Regions from separate parts of the Homo sapiens genome. Here region 1 is linked to region 2. The links come from fine-mapping of genetic effects on gene expression. A gene starts in region 2. The other region holds a variant in brackets. All regions are shown on one strand. Distances are from middle to middle.

The links.
Region 1: its variant is fine-mapped to the expression of ACTR5 in whole blood (TOPMed, PIP above 0.99). The same link has a PIP of 0.9 or more in T cells.

What each region holds. Positions count from the first base shown.
Region 1 is chr20:38,788,101-38,793,479 of GRCh38, forward strand. No RefSeq gene overlaps it. Among named protein-coding and RNA genes, the nearest start is that of PPP1R16B, 15 kb to the right of the region's middle. The variant T/C (reference allele first, on the strand shown) is at 2,543.
Region 2 is chr20:38,745,151-38,750,494 of GRCh38, forward strand. It overlaps ACTR5 (actin related protein 5), which reads left to right and starts at 3,310. Exons shown (of 9, transcript NM_024855.4): 1 at 3,310-3,703; 2 at 4,860-5,089. The coding sequence starts at 3,329. RefSeq lists silencers at 2,786-3,055, 3,356-3,545 and an enhancer at 2,906-3,407.

The DNA of each region.
Region 1 (5,379 bases), 43 kb after region 2:
GTCTATAGTGATACGGAACTTAACAGGGGCAGGCAGTCCAAGGTGGCCTCACTCACATGTCTGGGGCATCAGCTGGGATTCCTGGAACAGGTTGAGTGGCTGGATTATTCCGTGCATGTAGCCTCTCATCCTTAAGGAGTCTACTCCGACTTTATTCACAAGGTGACAGTGTTCCTAGAGAACCAGGCCCTGTGTATACAAGCATCCCAAGCTCCTGCCTGCCTCATGTTTGCTGATGGCCCACTGGCCAGCGCAAGTCACATGGACAAGCCCCAAGTCAGTGTGAGAGGGGGCTATGCATAGGCGTGGATGTCAGGAAGTGTGGTCCATTGGACTCCATTAATGTCATGACGTTGCCATGTAATATACAATGCATGCTTGGCCCTCAGCCTATGTCTAAGCTCAGGTGAGACCTTCCCTGGGACAGCCCAAGCATAAGCAAGTGAGCCTGGCAGGTGAGACTAGAGCTGGTGCAACCTGCATTAATGAGGGGATTGGTGCTTTGATAGGATTAAACCAGGGGCTAGCATAGCACAGAGGAGGGGGCTTAACCAATGCCAGGGCTTTCAGAGGCCCTGTGGCTAGAGGTGACAAACACAGTCTCTCAAACCAGGCAGACCTGGGTTCAAGTCTTCACTCTGCCATTTCCTTCTTCTGTGGTCCTGGGCTAGTAACTCCCCTACTCTGACTGTCAGTTTCTTCATCTGTGAAATGGACCTCACAGGGTTGCTGTGAGAATCAAAGGAGCTCAGAAGAGCTTAGCCTGACACAAAGCAGCAGTCTATAAATGGTGGTGCTAGTGATCAGTGTGATAAGAGTGGTGATAAACATCATGGTCCCTGACATTGGTGACAGGAGGCAGGGTCATGGATGTTCTGGATGAGCAGAGAGCTCTGGATAGGTGACTAGGAGTGGCCTGTTAGAGGAGGGCAGGGAAGGGCATCCCAGGCAGAGAGAGCGGTGCATCCAAAGGCGTGGAGGTAGGATTGAGAATGATGTGCATGACCAACTGCGACACCATCGGTGTGTGCAGTGTGCCTCGAGGACGGGTGCCATGGCAGACCGCATTTTCCCAAGACAGATATCGCCTATATATCACATGATCGTCTGACAATGTGGCTGTTAGGAGCAGAATCATGTTCCCACAAATATATACGTTGAAGTCCAGTACCTCAGAATGTGACTGCATTTGGAGATAGGGCCTTAAAAGAGGTGATTGGCCGGACGCAGTGGCTCACACCTGTAATCCTAGCACTTTGGGAGGCCGAGGAAGGCAGATTGCCTGAGCTCAGGAGTTCGAGACCAGCCTGGGCAACACGGTGAAACCCCATCTCTACTAAAATACAAAAGAAATTAGCCGGGTGTGGTGGTGTGTGCCTGTAGTCACAGCTACTCAGGAGGCTGAGGCAGGAGAATCGCTTGAACCCAGGAGGTAGAAGTTGCAGTGAGCCGAGATCATGCCACTGCACTCCAGCCTAGACAACAGAGCAAGACTCTGTCTCGACAAAAAAAAAAAAAAAAAAAAAAAAAGAGGTGATTAAGTTAAAATGAATGCGTTAGGGTGGGGCTGTAATCCAGTATGACTGTGTTCTTATAAGAAGAGGAGACACCAGGCATGTGCCACACAGAGGAAGAACCATGTGAGGACACAGTGAGAAGACAGCCATCTGCAAGCCCAGGAGGGGGTCCTTAGGAGAAACCAACTCTGCCCACACCCCATCTTGGATTTCTTGCCTCTACAACTCTGAGGAATAAACTTCTGTTGCTTAAGTCACCCTGACTGTGGTCCTTTGCTATGGCAGCCTTAGCAAACGAATATATTGACTTTGACATCCCTCCCATCAAAGGGTGTCCTATTTCTCCTCTCCTTGAAACTCACACTTGAGCCCAACCGCCATGCTATGAGGAAGCCCGAGCTAGCCCAGCAGCCATGCTGTGCCTGAGCTAGCCTAGCTGCCATGTTGTTCCTGAGCTAGCCTAGCAACCATACTAGGAAGCCCAAGCTAGCCCAGCTGCCATGCTGTGAGGAAGCCCAGGCTAGCCCATGCTGTGAGGAAGCCCAGGCTAGCCCATGCTGTGAGGAAGCCTGAGCTAGCCTTCACGGAGAGACCACACAGAGAGACCCTTGGTAGGGGTTGCAGCTGACAGCCATCATCAATACCCAGACAGGTGAATGAAGACACCTCCGGATGATTCCAGCTCCCAGCTATTGAGTCACCCCCCCCTCCACGTCCCCACCCCCAGCTGGTGAGTCACCCCCAGCCAACAAGTATTTCCACCTGAGGCCCGGGACATGTGGAAAAGACAAACTATCCCTGCTTCACCTTTTCCAAATTTCAGACCTACAGAATTCATAAGCATAATGAAATGGTTGTTTTACCCCTCTAAGTTTTGGAGTAGTTGGATACAAAGCAATAGCATCTCCCAAGGGCTCTTCTAGATGGAGCAGCTACCCACAGCCTGGTTCTGTTTTTGACGTAACAGCGTAGAACGCCCCTCTCCCGAGCACTCCCGAACTTTGAGAGAGACCTGATACTGCCAC[T/C]TGGTGGCCAATAGAAACTATGCAAGACCCGCTGTTTCGCCCTTTCTTCTTCCTTAAGAGTTTATTCACATTCATTCATTCATTCCACATTCATAATCCCTGATGGTGGTGGATCAAGTGTAGTTTTAAAAAGCATATTCGAAAATTACTTTTTTTAATATGCTTTCATCTTTGGTCATGAAATTTCATTTACAAGTCTACAATCCCTTACACTCTTCCAAAATCCAAAATTCTCTGCAAACTCAAAGCGTTTGCATCAGTTTATAAAAGCTTACTCAGTAGCTAAATCTAATCCGAACTGGCTTAAGGCTATTTATAGTCTTTCATTAACATTTCACAGTAAGATTTTTTTTTTAATTTTTTTTTTTGACGGAGTCTCACTCTGTCGCTCAGGCTGGAGTGCAATGGCACGATTTAGGCTCACTGCAACCTCCACCTCCCGGGTTCAAGTGATTCTCCTGCCTCAGCCTCCCCAGTAGCTGGGATTACAGTCACCCGCCACCACACCCAGCTAATTTTTGTATTTTTAGTAGAGACTGGGTTTCACCATGTTGGCCAGGCTGGTCTCAAACTCCTGACCTCAGGTGATCTGCCTGCCTCGGCCTCCCAAAGTGCTGGGATTACAGGTGTGAGCCACCATGCCCAGCCCACAGTAGAAATAATAATATTTGATTTGGGGGTGCTGCTCTAGACCCCTCTAAGGATGTCGTAAAATAGCAGTAGTTCTCAAAGTGTGGTTCTGAGACCAGCTGCATTGGCATCAAATGGGAAATGGAAATGGAAATTCTCAGGCCCCACTTCAGACCTACGGAGTGAGTGTGGCCCAGCCCTCTGTGCTTTAACAAGCCCTCTTGGAGATTCTGACTCACGCTCACATATGAGAGTCACTGATATAGACTCTATGCACCCACCACATTGCATTTATAAAATTCAAAAAATTGTGAAATTCCTAAGCACATGTAGTCCCATGCTTTATGAAAAAGGATTGCTTTCAGACCTGTATTTTGGAATGTCAAGTAATATTAAGGGAAGCCATGAGATTTTCATGTCTAAAAAGGGGGGAAGGGGCCAAGCGTGGGGGCTCACGCCTGTATTCCCAGCACTTTGGGAGGCCGAGGCGGGTGGATCACCTGAGGTCGGGAGTTCAAGACCAGCCTGACCAACATGGAGAAACCCCATCTCTACTAAAAATACAAAATTAGCCAGCCATGGTGGCGCATGCCTGTAATCCCAGTTACTCAGGAGGCTGAGGCAGGAGAATTGCTTGAACCCGGGAGGAGGAGCTTGCAGTGAGCCGAGATTGTGCCATTGCACTCCAGCCTGGGCAACAAGAGCAAAACTCTGCCTCAAAAAAAAAAAGGGGGGGCAGTGGGGAAGGAGTTCCTTGTAGGAATGGAGAAAGGGTGTGATTAATAACAATAAAAGCTAACTTTTGCTGAGTTATTTATAACCTATCAGGCACTGCGCCAAGTGCCTATGCTTATCTAGTCCACATAATGCACCTAGGAGATAGTTACTTTTATCATACCCATTTTATGAATGGGGAAACTGAGGCAAGTGGTGTGAGCACCTACCAAAGCCTGAAGAAGGTCAGCAGTAGAAGCTGTGGCCTTCAGTAGAGGGACACAGCCAACTCACATGGCCTCACTTCTGCCCTCTTATCTCCTACAAGAAGCCAGAAGACAAGGGAATTCCTATGGTGTCATCCACAGTAGTGCAGAGCAAGATGAAGTATGCTACTCAGGCCTCCAAATTTCCCTCCAAAACAACTGCACCAGCGTTTGGTTCCTCCCACCCCAATGGGTTCCACTTACACAGTCTTAGGTCTGTAGGGCTAGTGAAGACAGCCAGCCTATCATTTATTATGCCTCTAGTGCAAATCTGGGTATCACAAATGCATGCTATTGTGGTTATAAAATATAAAAGTATCAGCCGGGCCCAGTGGCTCATGCCTGTAATCCCAGCACTTTGGGAGGCTGAGACGGGTGGATCACCTGAGGTCGGGAGTTCGAGACCAGCCTGGCCAACATGGTGAAACCCCGTCTTTACTAAAAATACAAAAAAAAAATTAGCTGGACATGGTGGTGGGTGCCTGTAATCGCAGCTACTCAGGAGGCTGAGGCAAGAGAATCGCTTGAACCCAGGAGTTGAAGGTTGCAGTGAGCCGATATTGTGCCCTTGCACTCCAGCCTGGGCAACAAGAGTGAAACTCCATCTCAAAAGTAAATAAATAAATAAATAAATATAAAAGTATCACACTGTAAGTGTTCATTTGCAGCTTGCATTTTTTCCCAACTCATTTTGTTTTTTCAGATTTATCTATGTTGATGCAGGCAGCTTTATTTCTGTTCATTCTCTCTGTTGTTTAGAATTCTGCGATATTAAAGCACTCCTGAATCCATTTATCCATTCCCCCTTTGGTAGGCATTTAGGATGTTGCTGGCCTTTTGCAGATAAAGGCCTAATGAATATCTTTAGACATGTCTTCTACACAGGTGGGAGGTTTTCTCCTAGCTGGATGTTCCTAAATGTGGAGCTGCTGTATTACTGGACGCGAGTACCCAACTTTCCCAAATAATGCCAAATTTCCCTCCAAAACGATTGCACCAGGGTTTGGTTCCTCCTACCCCATGGGGTTCCACTTACACAGTCTTAGCCCACCGCGGTATTGAGAGACTATTTTATTTATATTTATTTTGCCTTTCCGATGGATGTGACCTCTACCTCCTATCTGTTTTATTTACATTTCCCTGATAATTCAGAAATGGAGCATCTCTTCAACCCATCTGTCATGTGGGGATAAACATTTTGCCTTTCCACTTCAGGCTTTGCCTATG
Region 2 (5,344 bases):
AGAGTAGCCACTAGCTACATGACTATTTAAATTTAAACTAAAATTAAGGCTGGGTGCAATGGCTCACACCTGTAATCCCAGCATTTTAGGAGGCCGAGGTGGGCAGATCACTTGAGGTGAGGAATTCACAACCAGCCTGGCCAACATGGTGCAACCCTGTCTCTAATGAAAATACAAAAATTACCGGGGTGTGGTGGTGCATGCCTGTAATCCCAGCTACTCGGGAGGCTGAGGCAGGAGAATCGCTTGAACCTGGGAGGCAGAGGTTACAGTGAGCCGAGATTGTGCCACTTCACTCCAGCCTGGGTGACAAGAGCGAAACTCCATCAAAAAAAAAAAAAAAAGAAAGAAAGAAAGAAAAATTAAAATTAAGAACATTTTAAAAATTCAGTTCTTCAGTTACACTATTCACATTTCAAGTGCTCTGCGGCCACATGTGGTTACTGGCCACTGTGTTAGACACAACAGATACTAGATCATCTCCATCAATTTGCACATTTCCAATGTACAAAGTTCTGTTGGACAGCATTGGTCTAGTGTATTAGTCGGTTTTCTCCTGCAATAATACTGCATAGCAACTCCAGAATTTCAGTGGTTTATAAGAATAAACATTTTTCTTGTTCAGAGGTCCATGGGGCAGCTCAACTTTAGGTTGCAGGTTGGCTGGACTTGGCTTCGGACTGCAGTTTAGGTTCAGATCTGCTCCATGTATCTCTTATCCTCTTTGGACTCAGGTATGTTCCTCTCATGACTAAAAGCAGGAGTGCAAGAAGGCAATCTAAACCAATCATATTCAGTTAACAGTCCATTGGCTAAAGCAAGTCACATGACCAAGCCTAATATCAGTGTCCTCAAGGAGAGGCTCTACAAAGTTACAAGGCAAATGGTATGGATGTATCATCCTACTATAAAGGAGTGAAGAAAAAAAAAGTAAAGGAATGAAGAACTGGGAATAATAATCCAATCTACCTCATGTGCCAAACGCTTATAAAGACCAGCCTGGGCAACATGGCAAAACTCTGTCTCTATGTGGTGGTGTGCACTTGTAGTCCCAACTACTAGTGAGGTTGAGGCTGGTCTTGAACTTCTGGGCTAAAGCAGTCCTCCCACCTCAGCCTCCCAAAGTGCTGGGATTACAGGCATGAGCCACCACACTGGCCATCCCCGTTGGAGTTGCCTCTCATATATATATAAAATAATAATATATATAATATATATATTTACCTTGGTGCTTTTCTTTTTTTCTTTTTTGTGAGACAAAGTTTCACTCTTGTTGCTCAGGCTGGAGTGCACTGGCGTGATCTCGGCTCACTGCAACCTCCGCCTCCAGGGTTCAAGCGATTCTCTTGCCTCAGCCTCCCAAGTAGCTGGGATTACAGACACCTGCCACCATGCCCAGCTAATTTTTGTATTTTTACTAGAGACGGGGTTTCACCATGTTGGCCAGGCTGGTCTCGAACTCCCGACCTCAGGCGATCCACCAGCCTCGGCCTCCCAAAGTGCTGGGATTACAGGTGTGAGCCACTGCGCCCAGCCAGTGCTTTTTCATATTAATATACATAGACACAATTCTTAAATTAACATTCACTAACTTACATTTACTGGTTTCTGTGTTCTGCTGGTCCCCCTCTTAATTAACTTAACGATGGTTACTTCAGATATCTGAACAATGGACGTGTGTTGAAAGACAACACAACCTGATTTTTGCCACTGGGCTGGCTCCCAATCTGGTTTAGGTGTGTTAACAGGCTGGGCCCGTCGTCTCAAGCCTGTAATCCCAGCACTTTGGGAGGCCGAGGCAGGCGGATCACTTGAGCCAAGGAGTTCGAGACCAGCCTGGCCAACGTGGCGAAATCCCGTCTGTATTAAAAATAAAAAAAATTAGCTGGGTGTTGTGGAGCATGCCTGTAATCCCAGCTACTCGGGAGGCTGAGGCAGGTGAATTGCTTGAACCGGGGATGTGGAGGTTGCAGTGAGCCAAGATCACACCACTGCACTCCAGCCTGGGTGACAGAGCCAGACTCCGTCTTAAAAAAAACAAACAACAACAACAACAAACACTGTTAATAGAGGTTCTTGAGATAAGTTAGGAGTTTCATTTCTCGCTTACAATATCTTTTGTAACTAATTTGATTTTATCTCTCAAACTGAAGTGTTATAGACCTGGTAGAGTAGATTCAAGGCAGCTGCTCTATTCTTTTTCTTCTTTCAAAATGGTTATGGCCAGCATGGGCAACATAGTGAAATCCCTTCTCTACTAAAAATATAAAAATTAGCTGGGCGTGGTGGTGCACGCCTGTAATCTCAGCTACTTAGGAGGCTGAGGCGGGAGAATCACTTGAGTCCAGGAAGTCGAGGCTGCAGTGAGCCGAGATCGCCCCACTGCACAAAAAAAGGTTGTAGTAAAACAACTGCTCTAATTCTTACCCCCTTAGCTAGTGAAAAGATGGAAATGCGACAGGATAGAGCGCGACGAGTGCTTTTAGGGCTAAAACTGAGTGGGTCACACACATGGCCTCCTCTCCCACCCGCTCCTGGCCAGAATTTAGTCACATGAGCGCATCTAGATCGCAGCCAGACGGATGGCCACGTGGGAGTGGGAGGTGATGCCACTAAAAGAGAGGGAATGCTTGGGGAACAATCAGCAGTCTTTTCTCAGGGTTTGAGAAAACACTGTGTCTTAGTGAGAAGACACAGTCTGTGCGAGTTAGTAAAGTGAACAGAACTGAGTAGTCAGCTCCCTAGTCAAGAAATTGAACAGTCGGCAGAGTTTGAGATTTCTTAACGTAAAGGAAGCGTCAAAAGATAAAGGACCCTTCTAGCCAGGACGCAAGACTGAGGGCGAGACAGCCACGCGGAGGCGGGGCCGCCGGCGGTCGAAGGTGCGCGCCCGGCCGACGGTGCGCGCCCGGCCGACGGTGCGCGCCCGGCAATGGGGCGTGGCCAGGCAGAGAGGCGGGGCTCCACCGAGCGCGGCGCTGAAGCTGGCAGCCAGAAAGGGGCGGGGCCTGGCGGCGATAGGCTTTGGGGCGGGGCTTCCAAACCGGGCGTCCCGGCTAGAGTGAAGGGGCGTGGGCACTCATAGGCTATTGGGGGAGAGGTTAAGAAACGTAGAATTTCGCAGCCAGAATGGGTACGTCTCAGCGATCCTGAAAGCAGCCTTGACAGCCAGAGGCGAGTCAAGTGGAAAGGCTGGCCGGGCTTCGAGAAGGGAGGGGGCATCGAGGTACTTAAAGGCCTGAATCGCGCGGCGTGACGTCGGGGGCGCGGTTTCGCGGCGTCTGGGCGGACACTGCGCCGAGGGGCGGGGCTGGACGCGCGCTCCAAGATGGCGGCGAACGTGTTCCCGTTCCGCGACGCCCGTGCCGCACCGGACCCAGTGCTGGAGGCCGGCCCGGTGGCACACGGGCCACTGCCGGTACCGCTGGTGCTGGACAACGGGTCGTTCCAAGTCCGCGCTGGCTGGGCGTGTCCCGGGCAGGACCCAGGTCCCGAGCCGCGCCTGCAGTTCCGCGCGGTGTGCGCCCGCGGTCGTGGCGGGGCACGGGGCGCGTCGGGCCCGCAGGTGGGGAACGCTCTGGGCAGCCTGGAGCCACTGCGCTGGATGCTGCGCTCGCCCTTCGACCGCAACGTGCCGGTCAACCTGGAGCTTCAGGAGTTGCTGCTGGACTACAGCTTCCAGCACCTGGGTGTCTCCTCACAGGTGAAGGGCGGAGTAGGCTGGGCTGGGCTGGGTTTGAGGGGAGGGGTGCGGTCTCGTCTCCGCTCACTCTGCTCTCGGAGAGGTAACAGTCACTTCAGTAGCTCCGATTGTCTTTTAGTCGACCAGATGCTAGGCGCTGTGGGTGTAGCAGCGAATAAAATGCTGCTCCTTGTATCTTGGAGCATACCTTTGGGCATATATGCTTGTTTGTTAAGAAGCCCATTTATTAACAAATACGTATTGAGCACTTACTCTGTGTCAGGCACTTTTTAGGCATTTGGAGTACATGTGTGAACACAAAACTTCCTGTGCTTATGGAGCTGTTAATACTATGGAAAGATATTCTAGTATGAAAAGGCAGACAGTAAACATAGAAATAGTAGATTCTACGCCGTGATAGGAGAGGAGGGAGTTACATTTTTTCAGTAAGATGGTCAGGGTAGGACTCGTGAAGGTGATGTTTGAGCAAGGACTTGAAGGAGGTGATTCAGGTAGCAAGCCATGTGAATATCTGAAGGAAAAACGGTCCAGGCAGAGGGAGCAGCCAGTAAAAAGGCCCCGAGGCAGGAGTGTGCCCTAATCCTAACTGCAAGGCTGCCTGTGTGAGGGGGAGAGTAGTACCTGAAAGAGGATGTCAGAGAGGTAGTGGAGAGGCAGATCACACACCTTATAGGCTTTTACTGAGTGAAATGGGGAGCCATGGCAGGGTGTTGAGCTGAAGAAGGACCTGACTTGTGTTTTAAAAGGATCACTATTACTGCTGTATGGAGAATGAATTGTCTTGGATCATAGGGTGGAAACAGGGACGAGTTAGGAGGCTGTTGGAATAACCCAGGTAAGGGATGATGGTGGCTTAGATGAGGCAGATAGCAGGGAATGTCATTAGAAGCAGTTGGATTCTGGAAATACTTTGAAGATAGAGCCAACACGATTTGCTGACAGTTTGGATGGGACCTTGACTTAATAACTTAAATTGACTCTACTTTCGTATTTTCAAGTAAAGATGAGATGGGAGTTTTATAATCGCCTCTGATCAGGTTTTTGATTAAGAAGCCAAAAGCAAATTCAGTCCTGCAATAAGGATTTTGGGTTCTTTTATGCTTCAAAAAGAGTATTCTGTTACCACTCATTTATTTGCCCTTTTCTTTCAAAGTAGGGCTGTGTTGATCATCCCATAGTTTTGACAGAAGCTGTGTGCAACCCACTGTATTCACGGCAAATGATGTCTGAGCTTCTTTTTGAGTGCTACGGGATTCCCAAGGTTGCCTATGGAATAGACAGCCTCTTCAGCTTCTACCACAATAAGCCAAAGAACTCGATGTGCAGTGGGCTAATCATTTCATCTGGATACCAGTGTACGCATGTTTTACCCATCTTAGAAGGGAGGTGAGTTGCACTTGTGGCATTTGAGTGCGATTTTGAGAAGCATTCAGGAAACATTTATTTACTGCGTGCTTTAAAGGCAGAGTAGAAAGAGCAAGTACTAGCCTGTGAACTGAGCCGTTGGGCTTAGCTTTGAACTACCTCACTGTGTGACTGGGTAAGTCCCTTTGCCCATAGTTGTGTCCTTTGTGACCTTCTGGAGGGAGTTGGGGTGGATGATCTCTTAGTTCCACATCCATAATTCTACAATATTATAAT